Linked DNA regions of Homo sapiens. The protein of the gene in region 1 interacts with the protein of each later gene in a pairwise test. Each region holds a gene or a part of one and is shown on either strand. Other genes may lie near its edges.

The links.
Region 2: the proteins of CHEK2 (region 1) and LRATD2 interact in binary tests that used the Homo sapiens proteins (3 or more experiments, as listed by UniProt).

Annotation. Positions count from the first base shown.
Region 1 is NC_000022.11:28,693,321-28,696,820, reverse strand, and holds part of CHEK2 (serine/threonine-protein kinase Chk2), read left to right. Parts: intron 1-947; coding exon 948-1,111; intron 1,112-1,578; coding exon 1,579-1,694; intron 1,695-2,703; coding exon 2,704-2,789; intron 2,790-3,500. UniProt on the Homo sapiens protein: Serine/threonine-protein kinase which is required for checkpoint-mediated cell cycle arrest, activation of DNA repair and apoptosis in response to the presence of DNA double-strand breaks.
Region 2 is NC_000008.11:126,551,943-126,554,456, reverse strand, and holds the end of LRATD2 (protein LRATD2), read left to right. Parts: 3' UTR 1-2,014; downstream 2,015-2,514.

The DNA of each region.
Region 1 (3,500 bases):
AGCGTAAAAAGGATGAGAATCTGACCCTTTCACTGTTACCAATTATTTTAGAGATCAGGTGATACTGCTCTTATCCAGATTCGAATGAGCATTTATTGAGCTCTGTTGTGTACAAGTGACCTTTGTGCTTAGAGAGAGAGGAGGGGTCTAAATGGACGAGTGGGCTGGGTATGGTGGCTCACACCTGTAATCCCAGCACTTTGGGAGGCCGAGGTGGGCAGATCACCTGAGGTCAGGAGTTTGAGACCAACCTGGCCAACATGGCAAAAAATACAAAAATTTAGCTGGGCATGGTGGTGGGTGTCTGTAATCCCAGCTACTTGGGAGGCTGAGACACGAGAATCACTTGAACCTGGGAGGCAGAAGTTGCAGTGAGCTGAGATCGCACCACTGCACTCCAGCCTGTGCAAAAGGGCCAGACATCATCTCAGAATAGGTGAATGAATGAATGAGTAATCACATGCGCTGCCTTTCCCTGTTTCTCAAGTCTGGCATCACTTTAGAATCTCTTGTTAGGATTTATGACACCCAGGCTTTACCTCAGAAGCTGAGAGTGGCACTCAGGTATAAGCATGTGTTTCCAAGCTCCCCAGGTATTCCATAGCGCAGCCAAGTTTGAGACACTGGGGTCTAAGAACCATGTAGAACTAATTAGAATCCTGAAGTGTCTGTGATAAAGATAATAAGCTTTTTGTAAGATTACAGAGGACATAGGTTAAGTTGGAAAGCCTGAGTGTTGAGATTCCTAGGCTCAGGAATTTTAATTTAAGCAAAATTAAATGTCCTAACTTGCAAAGACATGAATCTGTAAATTCCAGATTAATGGCAGGTGTGAATTGTACAATAGAAACTGATCTAGCCTACGTGTCTTCTTGGACTGGCAGACTATGTTAATCTTTTTATTTTATGGCAAGTTCAACATTATTCCCTTTTGTACTGAATTTTAGATTACTGATTTTGGGCACTCCAAGATTTTGGGAGAGACCTCTCTCATGAGAACCTTATGTGGAACCCCCACCTACTTGGCGCCTGAAGTTCTTGTTTCTGTTGGGACTGCTGGGTATAACCGTGCTGTGGACTGCTGGAGTTTAGGAGTTATTCTTTTTATCTGGTAAGAAATATTTTCATTGCTGCACAGACTGGTAGGAGGTGATTAGATGAAGTCACAAATGTGTCTTGCTCTGTTGTCCAGGCTGGCATGCAGTGGCTTGATCTTGGCTAACTGTAGCCTCTGCCTCCTGGGTCAAGTGATCCTCCCACCTCAGCCTCCCGAGTAGCTGGGACTACAGATGCACACCACCATGCCCAGCTAATTTTTCTATTTTTTGTAGTGATGGGGTTTTGCCATGTTGCCCAGGCTGGTCTCGAACTCCTGGGCTCAAGTGATCCTCCTGCCTCGGCCTCCCAAAGTGCTGGGATTACAAGCCTAAGGCATTGTGCCCAGCCTAGCTCACTTTTTGACCATTGATTTAAAGAAAAATCTGACTTTTCATTATGCTGAAAAAGAAATCTTTATATCTGAATGCCACTGAGAATGCCACTTGATTTCTTTTCCTTTCTCTCTCTACCAATATTAAGCCTTAGTGGGTATCCACCTTTCTCTGAGCATAGGACTCAAGTGTCACTGAAGGATCAGATCACCAGTGGAAAATACAACTTCATTCCTGAAGTCTGGGCAGAAGTCTCAGAGAAAGGTATGAATATGAAAGGGTTAAGAATTTGTGGTATGCTAAAATGTGTATGTGCTGTGGTGGGAGTTTCTTCCCAAATTCCATGGTGTTTTCTCCTGTCAATTCTGTTCTTATTTTCTATTGTTAGTTTCACACCATTTGAGAGGCACTGGAAATTATTAAGAGCATGCACTCAGGTCCTGGGTCTGCTACTACTTAGCTGTGTGGCCTTAGGCAAGTTATTTAACCTCCATCTCCAATTTCTTTCTGTGTAAAGGGACCCTCAATAAACCCTACCTTAAAAGGTTTTTGTGAGGGTTAAGTATCATGTACACAAGTGCCTGGTACCTATTTTAGTGAGCAAAATAAATGCACTTGTAACTTTTTAGTTACAAGGTTTCCTTTGAGTAAGCAAGCATGTAAAAACTAGATGTCATTAGTTACCTTGTATTTTATAATTTATCCTGGCAACTTTAGTTCCCTGAAGAGAAAGTAGAAAATTAAATGTCAAATAACATAACATAGGTGATTGTGTTAAATGTCAGAATATTTAAGGAATAATAATGTTGTAATATACAGGCCAGCGTGCATTTGTTGCTTGCTGGAGTAGCCAAGTTTTATTTCTGACAAGTCTGCAGTTCCAGGGAGCCTCTCCCTCGCTGAGTAACTGTCACCTATCCATCTGTAGATGTCAGAGAGAGTTTGCTGTGCATCCCAAGTATCTTAGAATTGGGTAGAAGTTTAGCTTTAATTAGTCCGACCTTGAGTCTAGCAACAAGAGAGGGAACAGGCAGTGAAGAGGTCGTGACTGACGTCCCAGCAGCAGGAGACAGGGAGTGTCATTATCATTCCTGGTCTTCTCACAGTACTCTGAATACAGAGAGTGAGGAAGATTAGGGGGCCCTGTCTGCTGACTCCGTGATGATCTCAGACCCTCTCTGCTCTTTCTGAATGGTGGCCTGTTAATTCTGGCATACTCTTACTGATAATATATTTATCCTTTTCACTGTGATTTGCCCAATTGTTGCTTTAGCTCTGGACCTTGTCAAGAAGTTGTTGGTAGTGGATCCAAAGGCACGTTTTACGACAGAAGAAGCCTTAAGACACCCGTGGCTTCAGGTGGGTGTGGGACAGTGCCTGCTAGCATAAAATACATGGGAAGCCCTGCTGCCTGAGAGACATGAGACAGAGGACAGAAACATGTTTACTTTGTTGAGTGTTTAATCTAATTGTTTTAGATGTATGGGGGGTATCTTGGAGGATGGGTTACAACCTGTTTTATTTTTTTTTTTGAGACAGGTTCTTGTTCTGTCACCCTGGCTGGAGTGCAGTGGCACGATCTCAGCTCACTGCAACCTCTGGCCCCCGGGTTCAAGTGATTCTCCTGCCTCAGCCTCCCAAGTAGCTGGGATTACAGGTGCATGCTGCCATGCCCAGCTACTTTTTGTATTTTTTGTAGAGATGGGGTTTCGCCGTGCTGGCCAGGCTACAACCTTTTTGATATTACTCATGGCTGTTGGATGTACACGCTCACTTTATGTCCTGTTCTGGTTCCACTTGGCTGCCCCGAGTCTCCTGTTTGGCCTGTGTTCTTTTGAGTGCTTGTTCTGGCTCTACCCCCAGCCATGTCCACTGCTCTTCATAGGTGGGGTGCATTCCAGCCATCTTCAACCTTAAATCAGGGAAGTGGGGGAGGGGGAGGAGGACAGCCTCCCTGGGGAGAATCCAGCTATTTCTCAAGCCCAAGTGACTGGGTATAAAGGGTCCCACTGCTTGTTCATTCAGGTGAGTAAATGTGTCCTTAATGAAGGCTGTCACCTGCACTTTTCA
Region 2 (2,514 bases), on another chromosome or scaffold:
TTTAATACTCTCACAGCTTTGTGTTTATTCTCTTTGCTCATGGAATAGCAGAACAAGATAAACATGGGTTAAGACATTTAGGAGAACCTGCTGTATCTAACCCAGTTGGATTTTCTTTCATGCTTAACACAGTAGTGAAAATAGAAGGTAGGCCGGGCACAGTGGCTCATGCCTGTAATCCCAGCACTTTGGGAGGCTGAGGCAGGTAGATCACCTGAAGTTAGGAGTTCGAGACCAGCCTGGCCAACATGGCGAAACCCTGTCTCTACCACAAATACAGAAAATTAGCTGGGCGTGGTGGCAGGCGCCTGTAATGCCTGCTACTTGGGAGCCTGAGGCAGAAGAATTGCTTGAAGCTGGGAAGCAGAGGTTGCAGTGAGCCGAGATCGCACCACTGCACTCCAGCCTGGGCAGCAGAGCAAGTAGTAATAACCACCGTGTAGACAAGTGGGAGGGAAGAATAGAATGGCACTGTCCAGCTCTGGGCTAGCCAGATCAACTCCCCCACCCGTCTTCTTCCTCTGTCCCAGAATGGAAAATGATGTATGGTCAGTCACGCTGAAGTATAGCAGCGACTGTGTTAAGAGAGAGCAGTGACTCTCTCTTCTAGAGAAGAGGTTTTCAATAACAGGGCTTGGAAATGAACTAGAATAGGAAATAGATCTTTTCAGATGCTGCTTTCCCATGTAATACAAGCGTTTCTACAGGGTACCAGAGGTGTGAAATATGTGACACTTAAGAACAGTGATTTTTATTGGGAATTTTCTTAGGGTTATTACACTTAAAGCAACAACCAACTAGTAACAGCTCCAGGAAAGGGGAATGAATCAACTCTTGGTTCTTTCCTGAAGACGGCAGTGTTGTGGATAAGTGAGTTTTTAATGCCCTGGCAGTGGCTACATTTGACACTTTAGAAAAAATAAACATATTTAATAATTTTTGTTTCTCCTTAGGAATAAGACTGTAGAACTGTTTTGTACTGTGAATTACGGATGCTCTTTGAAGGAAAGAAATATCGATTCTAATGTTCTTCAGAAGTTCTGGCAGGGATAAGCAGGACATCGACTGGAACGTATGCTAAATGAAAGCAGACAAATTTCTATTTTCTTACCTGAGCAAATATTTTATTGAAACTGCTTATGTATGTCAAAGGAGCCCACAACTTCAGCTACACAACTTTTTGTATTGAAAGAACTCATACTTTTTGTAGCTTTTATTTCACATTTAATTTAAAGTGACTTTTAGCACTAAAATGCCTAGAAGATTTTACTCCAGACCTATAAGGAAATGTTTAGTTTTTATGAAAAATGACAAGTCGATGGTTAAACTTCTCATGTCTTTGGTGCTTTGGCCCTAATAGCACTGGACAACACCACGACCACATGGAAACATATTTTTGGAAGCAAAACTTTAATTTTATATAACGTATGCTATGGAGAGCTAAGACAATTTAAGGACTACTTGTTTTCTATTTTTTTTCTTAATAAAATGGAATCCACTGTGTTGAAGACTCTTGATATCATGTGCTTGTCTAACCATTTTTTGTTTTATAAATTAGAATAAAATATAGTTGTGATAATGGTCATCGAATGGATTTGTTTGGAAAGCTACATCTTATTTGTGAAATGTTTTTTAAATCAGAGTAACTATCAACTGATTCAGCTTTTTGTTGTTTTGTTCTTGGCTATAATACTTGTGACTCATGAAGAATTATGTTGACAAACAGGATAAATTCCACATGCATTTTATTTCCCAGTGAGTTGTATAAACTTTATTTTTGTTGAAGGTTGTATGTTAAATCAATGTTACATTCTTATATCACTTCTTGAGAAGGAAGTTCCGATTTGAAATTGTATCATTTCCTTCAAAATGAAGGGCAGTGCTTAGTTAAATAAAAGATTGATGATATCTTTTAAGCCATTTCCTCTTCACTATGTCTTATTAAAATAAAACCTGTCAAGTTCTTTTCAAAAGATGCTATGAGCGTTTCCAATAAACCATCTATTAGAGTTCACTGGATTTTTTTCCACTTGAATACCTTTTTTCTGACATTTTTGGTCCAAATTCAAGCTACTCAGTTTCCTATAATTTCTCTGAGAATATTAGCGTGCATCACCTTTGTATTGCACAGTAAACATTTTGTTGAATTCATTTAGTGACTGAAAACCCTGCATCTACTTTGTGAAAATCAGTTATTGCTGAACTATCAGTGTTCATGAAAAATGACTTATGAACATAAATTTTCAATACATAGTGATTTTTCAGAATCCATGCAAAAATTGTTGGAAACCACACTCATTATGGAGTCTACACTGGGCAGTCTGTTTAGTAGCCCACCGGGAATCTGTGTTGCATCTTAAGTGGCTTCAGAGTTCCAGATGAAGGGAACGTATTTGCCACATAATTACAGAAAATGGGTGAACATAGTGGCACGGCACTGTTGGCATAAGGGATGCAGGTGCCAGTGGTTGGTAAGAGAACAGATGTGGCATCAGACTGGTGTGTGGGATGCCA